Linked DNA regions of Homo sapiens: regions 2 and 3 are each linked to region 1. Evidence: fine-mapped expression QTL. A gene starts in region 1. Each other region holds a variant in brackets. All regions are shown on one strand. Distances are between the middles of the regions.

The links. PIP is the estimated chance that this variant, and not a neighbour inherited with it, causes the effect. A credible set is the group of variants that fine-mapping cannot tell apart.
Region 2: its variant is the best candidate, but not a certain one, in a credible set for the expression of CCSAP in naive CD4 T cells (Schmiedel 2018, PIP 0.60).
Region 3: its variant is the best candidate, but not a certain one, in a credible set for the expression of CCSAP in iPS cells (PhLiPS, PIP 0.62).

What each region holds. Positions count from the first base shown.
Region 1 is chr1:229,337,887-229,346,065 of GRCh38, reverse strand. CCSAP (centriole, cilia and spindle associated protein) reads left to right here and starts at 3,019. Exons shown (of 4, transcript NM_145257.5): 1 at 3,019-3,154; 2 at 3,553-3,967. The coding sequence starts at 3,601. RefSeq lists silencers at 1,570-1,864, 2,711-3,570, 3,771-3,970.
Region 2 is chr1:229,231,181-229,239,359 of GRCh38, reverse strand. No RefSeq gene overlaps it. Among named protein-coding and RNA genes, the nearest start is that of TMEM78, 14 kb to the left of the region's middle. The variant TAATAAG/G (reference allele first, on the strand shown) is at 3,407.
Region 3 is chr1:229,414,681-229,422,859 of GRCh38, reverse strand. No RefSeq gene overlaps it. Among named protein-coding and RNA genes, the nearest start is that of ACTA1, 15 kb to the left of the region's middle. RefSeq lists enhancers at 3,747-4,500, 4,501-5,256, 5,888-6,389, 7,652-8,152. The variant G/C (reference allele first, on the strand shown) is at 4,507.

The sequences.
Region 1 (8,179 bases):
TGTACCCACTCCTCCTGACTCCTCCCCAATTCACGTGCTCTGTACCCACTCCTCCCACACAGTGCTCCTTCCATCCACTGCCCTCTCCTTCCCATTTGTCTCTGGATGGTGCTGTTCTCTCTCCCTCTCTCTCCCCCCGTCCCCAGCCCCCGACTGCCCCTTCCAAATACAAACATACTCAGGAGACATCCGCTATCTACTTGACACTTTTTATGAATTCCCATGCCAGTGTAGAACCTAGAAAAGCCAGATATTTGCAAGCCTCTCTTGTAAATAGGGTGCAGTCGCTCAGGTTAGAGTGCAGTGGTATGATCTCAGCTTACCTCTGCCTCTCAGGTTCAAGTAATTCTCCTGTCAGCCTCCGGAGTAGCTGGGACTACAAGCATGCACCACCAAGTCCAGCTAATTTTTGTATTTTTAGTAAAAATGAGGTTTCGCCATGTTGGCCAGGTTGGTCTTGAACTCCTGACCTCAGGTGATCCGCCTGCCTTGGCCTCCCAGAGTGCCCTTATATTTGTGTGTGTGTGTGTGTGTGTGTGTTGTGTTGAAGATTGTAAAATATGCCCGCAAATTCCTTCACCCGGTATGCAATCCCTTTTGGAATGTGAATTTGCTGCTCCTCTTATGCAGAAGGGAAGTTCATTTCTCTCCCTTGACTCTTAGCCTTGTGATTTCTTTGAACGTGAGAATGCAGCAGGAGATGTATATGACCTTGAGATGCCAGTCCAGGCTTCTGGAGGATGTGACCAAGACGGCCCAGCCCACAGCCCACCCCACTGCCAGTTATGTAAGGGAGGTGTACTAGTTTGTTTTGTGCTGTTATAAAGGAATACCGGAGGCTGGGTAATTTATAAATAAAACAGGTTTATTTGGCTCATGGTTCTGCAGGCTATACAGGAAGCACAGTGTCAGCATCTGCTTCTGGTGAGGCCTCAGGGAGCTTCCAATCATGGTGGAAGGGGAAGGGGAGCTGTCATGTCACATGGAGAGAGAAAGGGAGTGAGAGAGAGAGAGGAGGACATGCCAGGCTCTTTTTGAACAACAAGCTCTCATGCAAACTAAAAGAGTGAGAACTCACTCGTTACTGAAGAATGGCACCAAGCCATGCATGAGGGATCTGCCCCCATGACCCACACACTTCCCACTAGGCCCCACCTCCAACATTGGGGATCAATTTCAACTTCAGATTTGGAGGAATTATCCCAACTATATCAGGAGGTCATCTTGAAACTTCCAGCCCTGCTGTCTCTCCATCAGAATCCAACTGCGGAGGAACTGCCCAGCTAACCCTCAGAATCATAAGAAATAATAAATCTTAGCTGTTTTAAACCACTGAGTTTTGGAGTGAATTATGCAGCAAAAGCTGAAACCGATGGTGTCCTGCATGTCCCATAGAACTACATATAACCATTTCCCCACCTTATTCAATCTTTATTAAGGCTACTTTGGTTGCAAACATCAGAAACCAACCCCAGCCAGCTTAAACAAAAGGAAAGTGCATTAGAATGTCCCTAATGTAAGTCAAGGAACAGAAAATAAAGTTGGGAAGGGGAGAAATCATGGCGTCCGCGGACTCATTAGCAGCAGGGTATCCTGGAGTTTCCGTCCAGAAAACTGCCATTAACACAATCCCGTGCTAATGATTGGACTAGTAACTTCAAGTTTTCAGAGCAGACGGTCTGACCCGCCCCATTTGGGCCAGTAGCCGCCTCTGAATCATTTAGCTATGATGAGGTGGGCGGTGGTGGTGGGAGGCAGGATGCGGACACGTAGAAAGTAGGTGAATTCGTGGGAATCCTGACGTGGAAGCCGTGAGCGCTACTCACGGCCTGGGCTTGCTTTTTAACTGCTATATATATATTTAGATTTTCCAAAAGTTTTTTCCTTTCAAATCTTTTTGCAGCTACTGTATCAAGGCTCTTTTTTTAAGAAAGGGAAAATAGTGCAGGACCACTTCTGAAACTGTAACAAATGGGGCAACGTTGTATTCTTCTGTACAATGTAACTGGATCTGTGAAGGTTTTTATTTTTTATTTTTTATTTTTTTTGAGACGGAGTCTTGCTCTGTCGCCCAGGCTGGAGTGCAGTGGCGCAATCTAGGCTCACTGCAAGCTCCGCCTCCCGGGTTCACGCCATTCTCCTGCCTCAGGCTCCCGAGTAGCTGGGACTACAGCCGTTCACCACCACGCCGGGCTAATTCTTTTTATTTTTATTTTTTTAGTAGAGATGGGGTTTCACTGTGTTAGCCAGGATGGTCTCGATCTCCTGACCTCGTGAGCCACCCGCCTCGGCCTCCCAAAATGCTGGGATTACAGGCGTGAGCCACAGCGCTCAGCCGGATCTGTGGAGGTTTTATGAGCAAAAAGGGAAAACAGTGCGGGGCCACTTTTGAAACTGTAACAAATGGGGCAACGTTGTATACTTCTGCACAAAGTAACTGGATCTGTGAAGGTTTTATGTGTAAAAAGGGAAAAGAGTGTGGGGCCACTTTTGAAACTGTAACAAATGGGACAACTTTGTATACTTCTGCACAACGTAAGTTAATCTGTCAAGCTTTTATGTGCAAACGAATCTCTGAGCGAGTGAAATGGTTTTGATCAAAATCTAAAAGAATTTGGGGAGTGTAGATATAAAAGGGAGTTAAAGCCAGAGTAACAGGTGTTGTGAACACAGAGAGGAAGAACCGGTAGGTTTCGAGTGAGGACAGAGAGTGTCGCCCCCGGCCGCAGCCTGGGGGGGCTGCATATCTGGAGGGATCATCTCTTGCCCCTAACTGACGACTCCTGCAGAGTGACGCGTGCCTGGGACAGCGTCTGCTGGGACCAGGGTGGACGGGCACCTCAAATAAGTGGGCCAGGGACCTGGGCCTGGGCCCCTCGGACTGGCAGGCACGCCCGCACCCCCGCGCCTCGCGCTCTCTACGGAAGCAGCCGCCCCCACGGAGCGGGCGGAGGCCCGGGGGCCGGGAGCGCGCGTGGAGGCTCCGGGACTGAGGCGGCGCCACCGCCTCCCGCCTGCAGCTGGAGCGCGGGCCGCCGCGGCGACATCTTGCTCAGGAGGAAAGCGCGCGGGAGAGCGAGCTGCGCTTTAGCTGCTGCGCCACGCGCGCCTCGGGCCTGGGCGCAGAGGATCGGCCGGGCGCGGCGGGAAGGAGGTAAGGCAGCCCCGCGGGACCGCACGCCTAGCTCAGGGGACGCCTCCGGAGACCCCAGGACCACCCGATCACGGGCCCCGCCGCTCCCCTCCCTCGCTCCTCCTCCCGCTCAGCCCCAGTCTCCTGCGGTCCCCTCGCCCCAGCCCGCAGCCTCCCTGCCTTCCGCCCACTGAGCAGCCCTCCTCGGCGGCGCGCCCCTCGACCCCAGCAGCCCCGGTCCCCGCCTCTGCTCTTGGTCCCGGCCGCCGGGTGAGGCCGCCCCCGCCCCGCCCCCTCCCCGCCCTCGCCGGGACCCGCCCCCTGCTCCCGTCCGGGCGGGGCTCCGGGTTTAAACGTCGCGGCGGGCAGGGCCGGCGGAGGGGCGGGGCGGCCTCTGTGTCGTGTACCGGGTCCCGTAGGCTGCGGGCAGCGAGGAGCGGCTGGCGCTCGAGGCGGCGGACGGCACCATGTCCCCGGGGAGCGGGGTGAAGAGCGAGTACATGAAGCGCTACCAGGAGCCGCGCTGGGAGGAGTACGGGCCGTGCTACCGCGAGCTGCTGCACTACCGCCTAGGCCGCCGGCTGCTGGAGCAGGCGCACGCGCCCTGGCTCTGGGACGACTGGGGCCCGGCCGGCTCCTCGGAGGACTCGGCGTCGTCAGAGTCGTCGGGCGCCGGGGGCCCCGCACCCCGGTGCGCCCCGCCCTCGCCCCCGCCGCCCGTAGAGCCGGCGACCCAGGAGGAGGCGGAACGGCGGGCGCGCGGGGCCCCGGAGGAGCAGGACGCGGAGGCCGGGGACGCGGAGGCCGAGGACGCGGAGGACGCGGCTCTGCCAGGTACCCGGCCCGGAGGGGAGCGCGAGGGGCCTGCACGCAGGGACGGTTTGCTCTAAGCTCTGAGCAGCTGATCTCTTATTTCTTGCGCCACTCGGGGCTGGCTCTTCCTTTTTTTTTTTTCGGTTGACAGAATCCGTCTCTCTTGACAAAATAGGGAAGGTGGCAGCCTTTGCCACCCTTTATTTCCTTAATTAGGTGGCTTTCGGTCGAGCCAGCGGTGAACTCAATTGAAGCGCCGCTGGCTGAGTCTGGGGTCTTTCCTCGCGGGCCTCTGCGGCTTGGCAAACCTCTGAATCCCATCTTATTTCTTGGCGAACCACTGAGTCCCATCTGCTTATTTCTAGGCGCCCATTTTTGATCAGAGGAGCCCCAGCTTTAATCAGATTCTCAAAGGTAACCCAAAAGGTTAAGAACCACAGAGCTAAGCTTTGTCTGATGAATGGGGCCATTGTTTTCCGTATTAACTCCCCGACCTCGCTACGCTGTCCCTAAAGAATATTTTGCATTTGTTTACGTGGAGTGTTGAATAACTTGGCTGTGAGAGCATCTTTATAAGTGCTAGGGCCTCTCCCCTTCCGTCCCTCCCCATCCTCCCTCGCCTGTCCAGATCCGAAAGCGCCGGTGGCGCTGCGCGTGTTTTCAAGGCATGGCCCCTTCACCTTCTTTCCTGCCCAGAGGCTTGCAGGGCTGGGGACCCAGTTGAACGCCTCAGTACAGCCTGGAGTAACCAATGGTTCCTTCCAGATCACTGGATTTTAAAAAGGCTCGAGTGAGGAAAACATGGAAAATGTATTGGGAGCCTGTTAGACATTCAGTCACTGATCTGGGAATATGTATGTTGTCATTTAATATTCAAAACAATCCCAAAAGAGACCATGTTGTAATCTTTTTTTTTTTTTTTTTTTGAGACGGAGTCTCGCTCTGTGGCCCAGGCTGGAGCGCAGTGGCGCGATCTCGGCTCACTGCAACCTCTGCCTCCCGGATTCACGTCATTCTCCTGCCTCAGCCTCCCGAGTAGCTGGGATTACAGGCACGCGCCACCACGCCCGGCTAATTTTTGTATTTTTAGTGGAGACGGGGTTTCACCATGTTGGTCAGGCTGGTCTCAAACTCCTCACCTCGTGATCCGCCCGCCTCGGCCTCCCAAAGTGTTGGGATTACAGGAGTGAGCCACCATGCCCGGCCCTAATCTCAGTTTTATAGATGAAAAAACGGAAGCTCAGGATCAGTGACTTTATTCATTTATGTGTTTATTTTTGTTTACCCGATTGCAAGCCAATCAGACTCTTCCTGGCTTCTCTGTGAGAGGCTGAGGAGGAGATGAAATTTCGGCTATGAGCCGGGTTGCTTTGCTCTTGGTTTTACCATCTTCAGCTATTTTCAGCTCATCATCGGAGGCAGGGCTGCCTCCTCCCATCATGATGTTACTTGTGAATCCCCACAAATCCTGATGCTTCAGTGATCACTGCTAGAAATGCAAATAACAGAAGGTGGAGGGGGTAGGGAACATGCCTTCCAGATTATTCCTGTGGGTACTGATCTGCTAGCTAAATTGAGATGTACTTTATCAGGCTAAATGGCTTTTCTCTCCCCGATCTTTTATTGTTTGTGATGGAGTTGTCAAATATTTGCATGCAATATAAATACAATTTTTAGGCAGCGTTGTGATATGGATGGTGCCTGTATTTACCAGCTCAGGTAAGCTCTGAGTTCATGATTATTTTGGTTTCCTTAAATATAGCGTCCTCTCAGTTATTTCTTCCCTGCTAACGTTTCTGGTTTAGGCATCAGGAAGAAGAAAGGATGTTTTCTGCTTTCAGGACTCAATCGCAGCATCTTTTGTTTTGCTCCTACCCGTAAGGCCCTCTTGACTCCTGTGTTGCTTGCACAAGATTAAATATCCTGGTTTTTAAGTGGATGGTTTTAAATACTAGTGCAATGAGCACTCTTTTGAGTTTCTATAAAATATAAAATTTTTTACTTTCCCTGAAGCCATAGATGCACATAGAATCACGTAGTTCTGTCTGACTTATTACAAAAGCACATCAGCCCTATGCCATACATAACACCCTGGTTTTTCCTTTGGTATTTATTTCTGTATCTCCAAGTAACATGGCTTTTATTGACATGTGATTGTTTTTTTTCAGTTTTTAACATTATCTATTGACTTTAATTCTTTTTTACTGCTCTCCTCACCCACACACACACGGCCCATCTCCACACCTGCACAATACAGTCCTCATAGAGTTTGTTGGATTCATAATTAGTATGTACCGTATTGTGCCCATGGAAAAAGTTACTCAAAGCTGACCCATACTATTTCCCATGATTCCCTTTTTTCTTTCACAATACAACCAACACATCAGGTTCACTATCACTCTTGTCATCTTAAGATGCCTCTCCCAGGGCCCCTGACCTACTTCTGTCTGGGCTGGCTGCTGCTCCTGTGGGCTGCTGCCTGGCTGGCATCTTGGGAGGGCCCTTGGCCATCCTCCTAGGACCTTTCTTGGCTTCTCTCTTGGGTTTGAGTCTCTGTCGTGTGCCTTTCATGTCATTTTCTTTCTTGGTTTACCCCTTCTTGGTGGAGCACATCTTCTAGTAGATTCCCAAGAAAGGATGGTTCAGAGGTTAGCTTTCTTTGAATGCCAAGAGATAGCTTTATTCTACCCTTACAATTTGGTGAGTGTGGCTGGGCATGGAATTCTAGGTTGGAACAGTTGTCCGTAGAAACTCTGGGGGCATTCCTCCTTATGTGTTATGACTGCTGATGTTACAGCCTGCCTCGTTATGATTCTTGATCTTGATCTTTTGTAGGTAATGTGTTGCCCTCAGGAAGCTTTCACGGTCTTCTCTTTGGCCTTTATGTTCTGACATTTTTCCTTGATCTAGATCTGTTTTCCTTTGCTTTGCTGGGCACTTGGCAGGTCTTTATAGACAAACTCATGTTTTTAATTCCCGGAAGTTTTCTGGAATTATTTTCTTATTTCTGTTTTTTTTTTTTTTCCCATTTCTTTTTTTTCTGAAGTCCTTAGTTGGATATTAGACTTTATCATTTTATCCTCTAATTTTCTAAGTTTTTTCTTGACAGATTTTCATCTTTTATTGTTTTGTTTTCTGGGTGATACTCTCAGCTGTATCTTCTAAATCTCTTATTACATTTTCCATTTGAGGGATCCTATTTTTCTTTTAAATGTAAGAGCTCTTGAATTGTTTTCTGGGCTGCCATTTATTCCCTCCCTTACCTCCCTCCTTTCCGTCCCTTTTTATTTCTTTTTACAACACAGTATCTGGTTCCTGATTGATGCATGTAGGGTTTTATCTTACTGAGGATATATATTAGAATTTTTCGTTTGTTTTCTTCTCTTTCTGTGTTTCTTCAGCACAATCTTTCACTTCTGCCTCTTTGTTTCTTTTTGCTGGTAATTCTCTATTTTCATGTTAGGCACTTTTCTCAAATGTCTAATGATCCTTCGTTTCTCATTCTTATTTAAGGGATGGATACTAAAAAGCTGTTAGGAAATTCTGTGTGTGTGTGTGTGTGTGTGTGTGTGTGTGTGTGTTGGGGTTTGGGGGTGGAAGTGCTTGTGAACCGTGAGATTCTTTTCCTCCCATAGCCAATATGCTATGAAGAGTGGTCTAGACTGTCTCCGATTCCTTACTTCATAGTCACGTTTTCTTTTTAGGTTAGATTTTATTTTTAGCAAAGTTTACATGTGCAGTAATTTAAAACATTTTGCTTAAAATGAAAAAAACATGATCCTGCCCCATTTCCCACCCATGCCCCTTGCTCCTTTCACTCAGTTTCGCTTTCCTTTCAGCATTGGCCACCCTCTTTTTATTTAATCTTATCTGTTGGCTTTTTGATTGTGAACATTATCTACTGACTTCCCATTATGGGAGATGAAGATTTAGCTCAGGATCTTAGCTCTGCCTTCCCTATTCTACCCCCAGACACATACCAACACCCATTTCCTCTTCTCCATATCCCCACAATATTAACTATATGATTGCTTTGTTTAATCTCTGTTCTGTGTTTGAATTATGGCTGTGTAGATATTTGCAGGTGAGCCATGTAATATATTCTGATTACATTTTTTTGTTAAAATTTATGGTTTTCCTGAAATTGATAATTGTTCCACTTTTTTGTTTGCTTATTTTGTTTTTGTTTTTTGCTTCTACTCCAGTAATAGGTTTATTAAAAAATAAGCTACC
Region 2 (8,179 bases), 110 kb after region 1:
CAACTGAGCTGCTAACACATAACTGTCTGCAGATGGGGGAACTAAGAGAGCACTGTAACACTCCCTCTGGGGTTTTGGGGTTGTGGGTGCCCCCACCTAGGCGCTGCCACAGGCCCCACATGGAGCTTGCTCCTGCTGGCACCCAGAGCAGCCAGCTGGATCCCACACTCATTTACTCATGCCTGGTCTGGCCATGGGCCCTGCATGGAGCTTGCTCCTGCTAGTGCCTGGAGCGGCCAGCTGGATCCTGCACTTGCTTGCTCATGTGCTCCCTCTTGCAAGGGGCTGAGTACAGTGGGCCAAGTAGATGGGGATCCACCATTGTGAGTCCCACAAAGGGGCCAAGAAAAATCCTGCATCATGATCCCACCTGCCTGGGAGAAGCATCAGAAACTCCATTTGCTCCCTGTCTCTTCCTTCAGAGACTTTCAAGACTTGTGGCTTTCAAGGTCTGAGAATCCCAGGGCAGGGCGCTCGGGAGGAGGAAGGGCTGGCTCTGGGCCTGAGGGATGTTGGGGAGGAGCTTAGCTTGGGACAGTGTCCTGCCCGGGCAACTACCAAGCTGCATCCAGTTCTCAGTTTGCTCCTTTGTGTTATTAAATATAATAATGTTTATTCTTTTTCTTAATCCAGCAGTAATGAGTATTCATTTTTGAAAACTTAGAAAACATAGATAAGCAGAAGGAAGAAAATTTAAATATCCCATATTCCCACCAGTTTGGTAATATAGGCTTCCAGTGTTTTTCTATCATTAAACAAAAATTATGAGAGGCCATTGTCTTAGACTGAGTTCCTGCACTAGGCTCCAATAGACCAGACCAAATCAAAATGAAGTTGCTCATGCTAAATGCCACATAATCAGACTAAAACTTTAAAGAAGCAGATAGATTTCCAAAACAGACCAAGTTTTCCTGCAAACAGGAGATTCCAGCCTTCCTGAGTCAGCAGTATATAAGGAAGTCCCCTCTGCTTTAACCCTTATTACAAAAGCAACCTGAAGTAACCTGATGTTAACTAATCAGTTTTTTCCTACTGTTCTATTCCTTGTTTCTACCTTACAAAACCCACGGTTCTGCCATTGCCTGGTGGAAGCTCTCATTCTATTTTGTAGAATGGAGGCTGCCCTGATTCATCGCCAATAAAAGTCAATGAGATCTATAACAAAATTTGTTGTAATTCTGTCTTTGACATTACACATATGTGTGCACATGTACAGTACCTATATATTCACACACTTTGCATATTGTTTATAATTTGTTCTTCATTAAACAATGGGTTGTGAACATTTTTCATGCCATTAAATACTTTTTTTTTTTTTTTTTTTACAGCATTTCAGAATGGATGGGTATATCATACCTTATTTAACCAGCATCCTATTGTTGGACTGTTAGGTTTTTCTATCAAAAATAACCCTGTGATGAGCCTCTTGAAATTGCTGTCTTTGCATGGATCCACTATATTTCCTTTGGATAATTCCAAAAACGAACAATGGGTGTGTGTGAGTTAAAGCGTTTAACTTATTTCCAAAGTAACTTCCATCCCCGTGTGTGAGAAGGCTCACCTGCGCCTTTCCACCACTGGCTGTTAAAAAATTTTGAAACTCTTTGCCAGACTGATAAATGAAAAATGTTATTGAGCTGTGTTTTTTTTTTTTTTCTGTATTGGTGAGCTTGGACATTTGTATATGTTTATTCACTCTTTTGTGAATTGGCTGCTTCCTTTCTTAAGTCACAGCACTTAACAATCCCTGGATTGTTTTGGCCATTCAAAACCAAAGTGAATGGATCCAGGTTTTATTACTCTTTGAAAGGTAAACACCTCGCTCCAGGCAGATAAACCTGCAGAGACCTTCCCAGGGCAATTAATTCTCTAACCCTCAAGGTTTGTCCATCCTTTGACCCAGCTGCCCGAATGTGCAGAGTCCCTAACATATTTCCTTGTCACATCCAGTGGGGACCAAGGAATCTCACCTGTTTGGAACTGTGAGCTTTTAGGTAATAGGAACAAGAAATAAAATTGGTCAGAAAACAATAGGAAATCATGGAAGGCTTTAAAAGCCAAGAGACCGAAAATATCTACCTATGGTTAACAGGTAATTGACTTATTTTGGTTTTTGACTATTGTAAATACACTTGGTGTGAATGCGCAGGTGTGTGTCCTTCCGTGGACACATGCATTCATTTTGTTTTGAGTATTTACCTAGGGGTGGGATTATTGGGTCAGAGTATAGGTGTATGTTTAGTTTGAGTAGGTAACGTCAAATAGTTTCTCAAGGAAACAACAAAAAAATTTACACTCCAATCAGCGGTGTATCACAGCTCCAGTTGCTTTAAACTCCACTGACATATGGTATTTCTGTCCTCTAATTTTAGTTTTTCTGTTAGGTTTTATATTTCTTTTAATAAGTTAATATGATTTTAGATTTTATATTTCTTTTAATAAGCTAATTTGACACCACATATAATATTAATGTTGCTTTTCCATTTTCATTTTGTTTAGTTTTAAAAATATGTCTTTTTATATCTTCTCTTACTGATCTATAGATAATACATTTTATAGAACTATTCTACTTTCAAGATTTTATACAACACTTTCTAATAAAAAAACTCTGGGTATATTCCTTTTATAATTATTTTTTAACCTTTTTTTTTTTTTGTTTTGAGAAGGAGTCTCACTCTTTCCTCCAAGCTGGAGTGCAGTGGTGCGATCTCAGCTCACTGCAACCTCCGCCTCCCCAATTCAAGCGATTCTCCCGCCTTAGCCTCCTGAGTAGCTGGAACTACAGGCATGCACCACCACGTCCAGCTAATTTTTGTATTTGTAGTAGAGCCAGGGTTTCACCATGTTGGCCAGGCTGGTCTCAAACTCCTGACCTTGTGATCTGCCCACCTCGGCCTCCCAAAGTGCTGGGATTACAGGCGTGAGCCACCGCGCCCGGCCTATTTTTTACCCTTTTATGTACCACCTACAAATGGTTCCTCTTCGTGTGTACGCGGTGCATTTCTCTTTGACGGTGTCTTACCAATACTCCTTCAACAGGGAAAATGGTATCCAATACCTTCTAAGTTTTGTCCTATCCTATTCTATTAAAATAATATGGCAATCCAGGTGTGGTGGCTCATGCCTGTAATCCCAGCACTTTGGGAGGCCAAGGTGGGCAGATCGCCTGAGGTCAGGAGTTCAAGACCAGCCTGGCCAACCCGGTGAAACCTTGTCTCTACTAAAAATACAAAAATTAGCCAGGCATGGTGGTGGGCGCCCATAATCCCAGCTACTCAGGAGGCTGAGACAGGAGAATGGCTTGAACCCAGGAGGTGGAGGTTGCAGTGAGCCGAGATTACGCCCCTGCACTCCAGCCTGGGCAACAGAGTAAGACTCCGTCTCAAAATAATAATAATAATAATAA[TAATAAG/G]GCACACATATCAAGCTGATACAAATTCTGCATGGATTATTTTTAAGCCTCCTTCCTTCAGGAGTAAGTTACAGTGTAAAGAACATAGCTTTGCAGCCAGACTGGGCTTATATCCTGCCCACACAACTTGCTAACTGTGTGACCTTGGGCAAGTTAGTTAACTCTCAGAGCCTTGGGTTCTTCAATAACAAAACCCAGGTTTTAGGATTGTTGGGATGTTAAATGAAATAGTGTATATAAAGTGTCAAGCATGTAACAGCATGCTCAAGAAATATGTTTTCTTGTATGCTAGAAGCAGGTACATCAGATGCCTCTTTATCACATTTGCCTTAGTTCACAAAGCAATTAAAAATAGATACAGGGTGGGAGGGGATAAAGGATAAAAAAACTACATATTAGATACAATGTACACTACTGGGGTCACTCGGGTGAAGAGTGTAGCAAAATCTCAGACTTCACCACTAGACAATTCATCCATGTAACCAAAAACCACTTGTATCCCAAAAGCTGTTGAAATAAAACATATATTTAAAAAAATAGGTACAGCTAGAAGATAAGATGATGGCTTTAAAAAAGTAGGCACCATCTGCTGGTGATACGGACAGGAGACAGGGAAACACTGGGTAGAAGAGGGCGGTTCTCCGGCAAAGGCCCCCACCCTGAAGCCCAGATACCCGTGACCCTAAAGGAGGACAGGGATTCCTGTTTTCACACCCAAAAGGTTGCCTTTTGGCCATCCTGTACCCATATAAACCCCAAACCCCAGGCTCCAGAAGCAGACAAGGAGACAAGGAGACAAGCAGACGAATGGCAGAAAGGCACGGCAGAGAAAGAGGAGAATGTCTGAGCACTGAGAGGTATTCGGCTGCGGGGCAGTCGAAGAGGAGTTTGGCCACTGGATGTCCAAATTCCAGGGGAAGATCATCTTCCCACTCCGTCATTGGTTCTGTACGGGAAGGCCGGACAACTCGAAGTGAGGAGGGGGCTTCCAGGTTATAGGTAGATAAGAGACAAAATGGTTGCATTCTTTTGAGTTTCTGATTAGCCTTTCCAAAGGAGGCAATCAGATATGCATTTATCTCAGTGAGCAGAGGGATGACTTCGAGTTCTGTCTGTCCTTTGTCCGTAAGGAAATGCCTTGTGAGGGAGGTTTGTAGCTTTTAAAAAAGATCTTAGTAGCTATCATTTTCAGGAGTAGAATGGGAGGCAGGTTTGCCCTAAGCAGCTCCCAGCTTGACTTTTCCCTTTGGCTTAGTGATTTTGGGGTCCCAAGATTTCTTTTCCTTTTACACCCAGCAGCCCTGGAATGGGGTGGGGGCAGCATTTTATACTCTAAAATCAACTTCACTCCTAAAAGCCAGAAATCTATCTCTACCCCCAGGGTTAAGGTGCTGGTGCCCAGTCCACCTAACCCCTGATCCCACTTATTATGCTAACTCTTTAGAAATGGGTGGCTGAACAATGGGGGATGAAAACTTCAGGGTGCTGGAAAATGCTCTTAACAACAACTGCCAGAGAAAAGGTAGCCAGCTTGTGCTGCAGTGGGTGACCTGGAATTCTCAGCACTTTTCTTTTTCCTGTCTTTTCCCCTCTGCCCCCTACCAGTGTGTACACATTCGCTAAAAGGGACTGACATCAAGAAGGTGCCAGCTTGCCTAGTTAGGAGCAGTCATTGCCAATCAAGTCTTCAAATACGGACTTGATAGGAAAAAGGAACACGTTTTCACCCAAGGTTAAACACTAGTGCCATTCAGAACATGGAATACTACTGGAGAGCAGGATTTACAGTGTCTTTGGGGAGACAGTTTCAGATAATAGCCACAGTACTGTGACAGTCCCAGATAAGCCACATCCTCTCACTGTTGGAGGGCATCCCTGCTCTCTCCCATCATGCCTGCCACCTTGGTTTCCAAATCTGACTTCTCCCCTGAGCTAAAGTGCCAGATCTCCAAGCCAATGTCCCTTCAGAGGTCCATTTAGCATTCTGAAATGAATCATCCAATTTCAGTTGCTGGCTCCCCTCCCCATTCCTCTTGTTTCTGATAATGATATTGTAATCACCTGATGGGTTCTTCCTGCCGACGGCACAGACAAAACCAATTCAATGACACCATGGCATTGCAATAAAGAAAGAGTTTAATTGACATGAGGCTGGCCACACCATGTGGGAGATGAAGATATTACTCAAGTCGACCTCCCGGAAAATTCTGAGGCTAGGTTTTTCAAGGGTTACTTGGCTGGCAGGGGGCGAGGGGAACAGATGCGGCTGATTGGTTGGGGATGCAATCATAGGGATGTGGAAAATGGTCCTTGTGCACTAAGTCTGCTTCTGGGTGGGTCCGCAGGACTGGTTGGGCCAAGAGTCAAGGTCCGGTCATCTGGTCATGAGAAATGCAAAATCCTGAAAGGACATCTCCAAAGACCAATTTTAGGTTCTTTAAGAGGGATGTGCCGGGCGCGGTGGCTCACGCCTGTAATCCCAGCACTTTGGGAGGCCGAGGTGGGCGGATCACGAGGTCAGGAGATCGAGACCATCCCGGCTAAAACGGTGAAACCCCGTCTCTACTAAAAATACAAAAAATTAGCCGGGCGTAGTGGCGGGCGCCTGTAGTCCCAGCTACTTGGGAGGCTGAGGCAGGAGAATGGCGTGAACCCGGGAGGCGGAGCTTGCAGTGAGCCGAGATCCCGCCACTGCACTTCAGCCTGGGCGACAGAGCAAGACTCCGTCTCAAAAAAAAAAAAAAAAAAAAAAGAGGGATGTTATCCTCAGGAGTAACTGGGGAAGTTGCAAATCTTGTGACCTACAGAATAATGGCTGGTAATTGTTCACACCTACATCTTAGCAGAATTCAGGCTTCTCTCATCCTCCTAACCGGGTGGTCCTTTATTCATTTTACAAAGGCAGTTCAGTTTTGGGGAAGGACTATTATCATTTAAACTGTAAACTAAAGTTTGTAACTCCCCAAGTTAGCTTGGCCCAAGCCCAGGAATGACCAAGGCAGTTTGGAGGTTAAAGACAAGATGGGGATTGGTTAGATCAGATCTCTTTCACTGTCATAATTTTCTCACTGTTATAATTTTTGCAAAGGTGGTTTTTCAATACTATCATTATCTTGGGCCATTCTTTGTACACTGCTTGAAAATGATGTGATGTGTTGTTTTAAGTGAGGTGCTATGGGTAGTGGTTACTGCCTGGTGGAGCCCCAATATCCATCCATTCCTCCTTTGATAGTGATAGGATTTGCATTTGGGTGGCCTAGGATCAAGACTCTATTTCCTAGATGCCCCTGTCTCTGGGTGTGGTAACACACTCAGTTCTGGCCAAAAGACTGTGAGTGAAATCATTGGATGTAACTTCTAGATCATATCCTTAACAGGAAGGGGTGTGATCTTTTTCTATCCCATCCTCCATCCTGTTGCCTAGAACATTGTGGGGACGGGGAAGCCAGTTTGGAGAATGCCAACAAGGGCAGCACCGTAGAGATGGCAGAGCAACTGGAAAAGAGGAACCAGGGTCTTAGATCCTGTGCAGCTGCCATTCCAGCCTTGACTTACTATTTGCCTGGACGACTGGGAGACAGAGCAATAGACATCTATCTTGTTTAAGCCACGATTCTTGTGAGTCTCTGTTAGAGCACTTGAAACTTATCCTAAAGAAAAAAGCCATCAGAGAGGCCCCATTTTCCCCAAGCTGTCCAGTGGCTTAGTCTAAGAGGCCGGTCTACCTGTGATAGAGGCAGGAGAGAGCCAAATGCCTAGGCAAATAGAGAAGGGTCCCTGGAGAGCCTCCCACCTGCCCAGGTCATTGTGGACAGCGGGCTTCACCTAAACATGCCCATGGTGAAAACTTCCGTGCCTTAACATAGGTACAGTAAGGGAAAGAAATCAATGTGGAGGGGCTCAAGACTAAGAGCCCACGTGTGGACTGGCAGTGGTGCCTTTGCTGCTGGTGTATTTTCCTGACCAAAATCACCACCCACCCCGCCCCACAGAGGGCCAAGCTTGTGCCTCCTCACACAGACCTCTCTCTGCTTTGTCTGAAGTCCCACACTGCCCACAGCTGGTCATTTAATTACTCTTGGTTTGATGAGTCTCTTACTAATTCCAATAGTTCACAGAATCATTAGAATTTTGAAGCTGTCAATGATTTAAATGCATATTTTCCCAAGTAGAAATAGAATTTAAATTCAGATAGTCCTAATCTGATGCCTCCTTTTCAGAATGCTCCCCACCCCAACTACTGCTTTGATCATGTTAGAATAAAACTCAGAATCAAACTCCCCGGGAGGCAATGCCTGCAGCCTGCTTTCCAGGCAGTGTGGCTCCCCGCTGTGCCCTTTGAAATTAGTCACAACCCTTACTTCCCGTCTGGAGTTTTTGAGAGAACAGTGACATGACAGCCCATTGTACATGAAGCAAGTTAGGGCACGTCCTGGCCAAGATCCCAGGGTCCTGAGTATCTTGTTTGATCCCGAGTTGAATTTATGGATCACAGTACATCTCTGGCCCCCTTGTTTCAAAGACAGAATCCCTTACGTCACAAGAAGCAGGACAGGAAAAGCCACATAGCAGACTGGATAATTTAAATGTATAATGGTGGATCTGTTTTTCTAGAAGAGCTTAGGTAAACTCGGAGGTGACCTCTAATTCCAAATACAAGGCCAGGTGTGTACTGGGAGCATAATAGATGCTTACTGGCTGACAATTGCAGGGCTCACCTTAACTTTGGCTGTGGAGCACAGCTCTGATCTCAGAGAAAAATATCTT
Region 3 (8,179 bases), 77 kb before region 1:
CCCCAAGTGCAGGGTAGTTGGAATAAGCAAACACTCTCCGGACAAGAGCTATTTCTAGGATCCTTGCACTTACAGCTTTTCTTAAATTTTGGCTAATTCTTTTTTTGGTCTGAATTTTAAAAAAATATTTATTTATTTATTATTTTTTAGAGACAGGGTCTCACTATGTTGCCCAGGCTGATCTTGAACTCCTGGGCTCAAACGATCCTCCTGCCTCAGCCTCCTGAGTAGCTGCCACTACAGGCACATGCCATCATGCCACACTCTGGCTTAGTAATTCTTTACCACCCGTTAATTCTTCAGTGTTCATAAGAAGATTAAAAAAAATCTTAGGCCAGGCATGGTGGCTTATGCCTGTAATCCCAGCACTTTGGGAGACTGAGGCAGGAGGATCACTTGAGCCCAGGAGTTCAAGACCAGCCTGGGCAAGATAGTGAGACCCTGTCTCTACAAAAAAAATATTATTTTTTATTTTACTTTAAGTTCTGCACATTTTACATGTGCAGAACATGCAGGTTTGTTACATAGGTATACATGTGCCATGATGGTTTGCTGCACCTATCAACCCGTCATCTAGGTTTTAAGCACCGCATGCATTAGCTATTTGTCCTAATGCTCTCCCTCCCCTTGCTCCCAACCCCACCGAAAAATTTTTTTTTTTAATTAGCAGGGGTAATGGCGTGCACCTGAAGTCCCAGCTACTCAGGAAGCTAAGGAGGGAGAGTCATTTGAGCCTGGGAGGTGGAGGCTGCAGTGAGCCGAGATTGCACCACTTCACTCCAGCCTGGGCAGCAGAATAAGATCCTGTCTCAGCCGGACGCGGTGGCTCAAGCCTGTAATCCCAGCACTTTGGGAGGCCGAGGAGGGCGGATCACGAGGTCAGGAGATTGAGACCATCCTGGCTAACATGGTGAAACCCCGTCTCCACTTAAAAAAATACAAAAAAATTAGCGGGGCGTGGTGGCGGGCGCCTGTAGTCCCAGCTACTCGGGAGGTTGAGGCAGGAGAATGGCGAGAACCTGGGAGGTGGAGCTTGCAGTGAGCCGAGATCGCGCCACTGCACTCCAGCCTGGGTGACAGAGCGAGACTCCATCTCAAAAAAAAAAAAAAAAAAAAAAAAAAAAGACCCTGTCTCAAGAAAAAATAACGTTCTATCAAGCATTTTTAGTTGGTTTCAATAGGAGTGTTAATCCCAAGAACTTAGCCCACCATATTCCCTAAAAATAGACCTCAACATACCCTACTTACCAGCTTTGTCTTTAGCCGCCCCTGAAAAACATCTCAAATCTCACATGTAGGCTTCGGAAAGTTTGTCCCAAATTCTGATGCCTTATTTTAAAGCTGTTGCCTTTTTCCTGGGCCTAAAAATGCACCGAATCTGAAAATTTTCCCAGGATGACAGGCCACCAGCTGGGAGGCCGAGATGCCTGGAGCCCTCGCAACCCAAAGCTAACGTGCCATGTGTCAACAGGGATCAGTTGAACCATGAATACAAAAAAAAAAAAAAAAAGAAAAGAAAAGAATGAAGGGCGAAGGGGACGAAGAGAGTAGGCCAAAGTGAGAAATCATCATGACAGCTTCCGGGGGTGGAAGAGGGGGGATTTTTCTTCCTGACCTTTTTGTACCTCAATGTTTCCACCAATATTATTTTTTCAACAAATACGCGTTATGTTAACATTAAGAATATTAAATCAAATGGCACAAATGAATAATTAAACAGAAAAGAAAGGATCTACTCGTCCAGCAGACCAGAATTCTCTTTCCAGTAGGACAAGTTTGGGCGGATCCATTCACAATCCTGCTGATGACCACAGGCCAGGCTCCTGCGACAGATGGAGGAGCTTAGAGGCTTGGGCTGGGCAGGGGATCAGAGGATCATATACAATCATACACGTGAATGACACATGGGATCATAGGTGATGCAAGGCGGCACCTGCTGGAAGGAGCTCAAGTTGCTGCTTTCATTGACCTGCCCCGTCCACCAGAGCAATTCTGGATGCACTTAGCAGACATCGGTGGAAAGAGAATATATGGAATTCAGGAGACTGAGTTCTATTCCCAGCTCTGCCTAGCACATTAGGTTTCCCCTGCCAATACCATTCTGCCATGGAAGAGGGAGGAGCGGCTTTTCTGCAGGATGAGGGAGCAAGCTAGGAGAAGGGGGAGAGTCACATTTTTCCAAGGACACGTTCCTTGAGAGCTTCAGAAAAGGTTCCACTGTATTCTTTCTCCTTCCAAAGCTACAGAGCTCAAGATTCTCCCCCACTTTCTTCCCTCCCTTTAGTTTTGTCCATTCATCAACACATATTTATGGAGTATCGCTACCATTGCAGGAACGGAGACGTGCGATATGGAATATAGTTATATGGAATAACTTAACCCTACTTGAACTTCTTCTCAAGTAAATGCTTCAAAAGGATGCCTGTCATCCCTGGGCGCGTGTCAGGGCGCATGTTAGGGCGTCATCTCAGGGCGCATGTCATCTGTTTCTAGAATCTGGATTTTCTGCTAATGTTTGTTTCAGCCTCTAGTGCTCAGTGCAAGGCAGGCAGGTGGAAGCAGGACCATGCAGGTACAGTGAGGCTCCCGGAAGACCTCCATGCTCAGATCTCCAGGTGCCCTGGGGCGGAACCTACCAGGGTCATTCTCCCAGGTTTGGGGGATGGGGGAGCTGCATGTGTTTTCCCACACCACGCTGGCACTGGAGACCAGGAATTTTTAAGCCAGGAAACTCAGCATCTCTGAAATTATCATGGGATCTCTTCCCGACATGGGCAAGGCAAACACTGGTTCAGGCTGGGATGAGGATGAGGTGAGAGGCCCCAGAATCTGCACTTGCACTTGTACCACCAGCACAGAGGATGTGCCTCACTTCCCACACCCAGTCCCAGCCCTGCACTGGGTGGCTGTATTTTTTCCAAGGGGCAGCCCCGGGCACCATGAGGCAAAGCGAATTGTTCCAGGCTACAGGAGAGCACAGGCACTGTGGCCCCCCAGCCAGGGAAGTGTCTGTGTCCTTTTTCCTCCATGCACTTTCCTGGTTATGGGACTACATGGGAGGGAGCTGTGCTGCTCCTCAGTCTGAGAAATTAAGACATCTAAAATCAAGTTGACATTATTCTTCAGCTTATTTTCCAAACGGATCCAGAACCCCCTCCCCTGCTATTGCCCTGCTTATTGGCACCCCCTCCAATCCTCAATTAATTCACTAATTTATTCAACCGACACTTGCTGAGCACCTACAAATCAGTGTCTCGGCCCTCAGGGAGCTGGCAGTCTAGCTGAGAGGCAGATATTGATCAAACAGCAACATGGGCTGGGTGCAGTGGCTCAGGCCTGTAATCCCAGCACTTTGGGAGGCCAAGGTGGGTGCATCACCTGAGGTCAGAAGTTTGAGACCAGCCTGGCCAACATGGTAAAACCCCATCTCTCTCTCTCTCTCTCTCTCTCTCTTTTTTTTTTTTTTGAGACAGAATCTCGCTCTGTCACCCAGGCTGGAGTGCAGTGGCACCATCTCGGCTCACTGCAACCTCCACCTCCCGGGTTCAAGTAATTCTCCTGCCTCAGCCTCCTGAGTAGCTGGGATTACAGGCATGCACTACCACACCCCGCCAATTTTTGTATTTTTAGTAGAGATGGAGTTTCACCATGTTGGCCAGGCTGGTCTCTGTCTCACGTGTCCGTGTGAAGAGATCACCAAACAGGCTTTGTGTGGGCAACAAAGCTGTTTATTTCACTTAGGTGCAGGGGGACTGAGTCCAAAAAGAGAGTCAGCAAAGGGTGGTGGATTATCATTAGTTCTTATAGGTTTGGGGATAGGCGGTGGAGTTAGGAGCAATGTTTTGTGGGCAGGGGGTGGATCTCACTAAGTACATTCTCAAGGGTGAGGAGAATTACAAAGAACTTTCTTACGGGTGGGGGAGATTACAAAGTACATTGATCAGTTAGGGTGGGGCAGAAACAAATCACAATGGTGGAATGTCATCAGTTAAGGCTATTTTCACTTCTTTTGTGGATCTTCAGTTGCTTCCGGCCACCTGACCTTGTGATCCGCCCTCCTTGACCTCCCAAAGTGAAGGGATTACAGACGTAAGCCACTGCGCCCTGCCCATCTCTCTTAAAGATACAAAAATTAGCCAGGTGTGGTGGTGGGTGCCTGTAATCCCAGCTACTCAGGAGGCTGAGGTGGGAGTTTCATGCGCCTTGTGAAGAGACCACCAAACAGGCTTTGTGTGAGCAACAAAGCTGTTTATTTCACCTGGGTGCAGGTGGGCTGAGTCCGAAAAGAAAACAAAGGGAATTAAGGGTGGGGCCGTTTTATAGGATTTGGGCAGGTAAAGGAAAATTACAGTCAAAAGGGGGGTTGTTCTCTGGCGGGCAGGAGTGGGGGTCATAAGGTGCTCAGTAGGGGAGCTTTTTGAGCCAGAATGAGCCAGGAAAAGGACTTTTACAAGGTAATGTCATCACTTAAGGCAAGGACCGGCCATTTTCACTTCTTTTGTGGTG[G/C]AATGTCATCAGTTAAGGTAGGGCAGGGCATTTTGACTTCTTTTGTGATTCTTCAGTTACTTCAGGCCATCTGGGTGTATATGTGCAAGTCACCGGGGGTGTGATGGCTTGGCTTGGGCTCAGAGGCCTGACATTCCTGCCTTCTTATATTAATAAGAAAAATAAAGCAAAATAGTGTTGAAGTGTTAGGGCGGCGAAAATTTTTGGGGGGTGGTATGGAGAGAGAATGGGCGATGTTTCTCAGGGCTGCTTCAAGTGGGATTAGGGGCGGCGTGGGAACCTAGAGTGGGAGAGATTAAGCTGAAGGAAGATTTTGTGGTAAGGGGTGACATTGTGGGGTTGTTAGAAGAAACATTTGTCATTTAGAATTATTGGTGATGGCCTGGATACAGTTTTGTATGAATTGAAAAACTAAACAGAATAAGAGAAGGAGAAAAACAGGTATTAAAGGTCTAAGAATTGGGAGGACCCAGGACATCTAATTAGAGAGTGCCTAAGGAGGTTCAGCATAGTCCTGCCAGCAAAGATTATTTACTTTAAGACTTAAGAGTGGCAGTTTGGGGATAGCATCCATATCAGCTGTGATGGCTTGGAGAAACAGTATAAACCGGCAGTGTAAACAAAAGCAGGGCATGTGTGAGTAGCTGAGAACGGTGAATAGGATTATGACTAGACAGAAGATAGTAGGGATGACAATTTTTTTGGAGCACCGTCCAAGTTGGTCTGGTGTCTGGAATGAGACTGGGGCCTAATAAAAAGGAGCATCTATACAGGAGCTCAAATGGGCTGTACCTTGTAGCATTCTGAGGACAGGCTTGAATTCTGAGAAGGGAAAGTGGTAAAAGTATTGTCCAGTCCTTTTTAAGTTGGTGGCTGAGCTTGGTGAGGTGTGTTTTTAAAAGACTATTAGTCTGTTCTACCTTTCCTGAAGACTGAGGACCGTAAGGGATATAAAGGTTTCACTGAATACTAAGAGCCTGAAAAAAATGCTTGGCTGATTTGACTAATAAAGGCCGGTCTGCTATCTGACTGTATAGAGGTGGGAAGGCCAAACCGAGGAATTATGTCTGACAGAAGGGAAGAAATGACCGCGGTGGACTTCTCAGACCCTGTAGGAAAGGCCTCTACCTATCCAGTGAAAGTGTCTACCTAGACTAGGAGATATTTTAGTTTCCTGACTCGGGGCATGTGAGTAAAGTCAATTTGCCAGTCCTGGGCAGGGGCAAATCCCCGAGCTTGATGTGTAGGGAAGGGAGGAGGCCTGAACAATCCCTGAGGGGCAGTAGAATAGCAGATGGAACACTGAGAAGTGATTTCCTTGAGGATAGATTTCCAGGATGGAAAGGAAATGAGAGGTTCTAAGAGACGGGCTAGCGGCTTGTAACCTACATGGAAGAGGTTATGAAATGACAACAGAATAGAATGGGACTGTGAGGCTGCAAGGAGATATTTTCCTTGGTCTAAGAACCATTTGCCTTGTGTGGGAAGAGATTGATAGGTGGAAGTTTCAGCAGGGGAGTAGGTGGGAATGACTGATGTGAAGGAGAAAAACTGGCTGTAAGGGACAGAAGGTGGAGAGCTAGCTGCTTGTCTAGCCACCTTATCAGCATAAGCGTTGCCTAGAGCAATGGGATCTGATGCCTTTTGATGGCCTTTGCAGTGAATGACTCCAGCTTCCTTTGGAAGTGAAGCGGCCTTGAGCAGAGTTTTTATTAGAGGCATTAATGATGGAGGACCCTTGCGTAGTGAGGAAACCTCTTTCAGCCCATGTGACCACATGGTGGTGCAGAATATGAAAGGCATATTTAGAATCAGTATAGATATTGACGCATAGTCTTTTTGCAAGAGTGAGGGCTTGAGTTAAGGCAACTAGTTCGGCTTTCTGAGAGATAGTGGAGGGGGGCAGAGCAGTAGCCTCAATGATAAATGTGGAAGATACTATAGCGTAGCCTGCCTTTGCTGGTGAGTGGCGATTAGGCCTGGTGGAACTGCCATCAATAAACCAAATGTGATCAGGGTGAGAAACAGGAAAGAAGGAAACGTGGGGATATGGGGTGAACGTCAGGTGGATCAGAGAGATGCAGTCATGAGGGTCAGGTGTGGTATCTGGAATAATGTGGGAGGCCGGATTGAAGTCTGGGCCAGGAACAATGGTAATTGTGGGACTTAACAAAGAGTGAGTACAGCTGAAGGAGCTGAGGAGCAGAAAGTGTATGCATCAGGTGTGAGGAAGAAAATAGATTTTGGAAGTTATGAGAACTGTAGAGAGTGAGTTGAGCATAGTTTGTGATTTTGAGGGCCTCTAAAAGTATTAAAGCAGTGGCAGCCACTGCAAGCAGACATGAGGGCGAGGCTAAAACAGTAAGGTCAAGTTGTTTCGACAGAAAGCCTACAGGGTGCGGTCCTGGCTCTTGTGTAAGAATTCTGACCGCACTAACCATGCCTAGGAAGGAAAGGAGTTGTTGTTTTGTAGAAAGGATTGGGGTTTGGGAGATTAGCCGGACACGATCAGCAGGGAGAGCACGAGTGTTTTTATGAGAATTATGCCGAGATAGGTAACAGATGAGGTTGAAATTTGGGCTTGACTGAAGTAATGGGGGATGTCTGTGAAGCCTTGCAGCAGTACAGCCCAGGTAATTTGCTGAGCCTGATGGGTGTCAGGATTAGTCCAAGTGAAAGTGAAGAGAGGCTGGGATGAAGGGTGCAAAGGAATAGTAAAGAAAGCATGTTTGAGATCTAGAACAGAATAATGGGCTGTGGAGGGAGGTACTGAGGATAGGAGAGTATATGGGTTCGGCACCATGGGGTGGATAGGCAAAATAATTTGGTTGATAAGTCGCAGATCTTGAATCAGCCTGTAAGCCTTGTCTAGTTTTAGGACAGGTGAAATGGGGAAATTGTAAGGGGAGTTCATAGGTTTTAGAAGCCTATGCTGTAGCAGGCGAGTGATAACAGGCTTTAATCCTTTTAAAGTGTGCTGTGGGATGGGATATTGGCGTTGAGCGGGGTAAGGGTGATTAGGTTTTAATGGGATGGTAATGGGCATGTGATCGGTTGCCAGGGAAGGAGTAGAGATGTCCCATACTTGTGGTTAAGGTGGGGGGATACAAGAGGAAGATGCAAAGGAGGCTTTGGGTTTGGGAGAAGGCTGGCAATGAGATGCGGCTGTAGTCCAGGAATAGGGAAGCAGATAATTTAGTTAAAATGTCTTGGCCTAATAAGGGAGCTGGGCAGGTGGGGATAACTAAAAGAGAGTGCATAAAAGAATGTTGTCTAAGTTGGCACTAGAGTTGAGGAGTTTTAAGAGGTTTAGAAGCCTGGCCGTCAATACCCACAATAGTTATGGAGGCAAGGGAAACAGGCCCTTGAAAAGAAGGTAATGTGGAGTGGGTGGCCTCCGTATTAAGAAGGGGATGGACTTATCCTCTACTGCGAGAGTTACCTAGAGCATCTGTGACGGTCCTGTAGGCTTCCGAGGCGATCGGGCAGTGTCAGTCTTCAGCTGCTAAGCCGAGAAGATCTGGGAAGGAGTCAGTCAGAGAGCCTTGGGCCAGAGTTCCAGGGGCTCTGGAACTGGCTGCCAGGTTAGTTGAACAGTCTGATTTTCAGTGGGGTCCCACACAGATGGGACATGGCTTAGGAGGAATCCCGGGCTGTGGGCATTCCTTGGCCC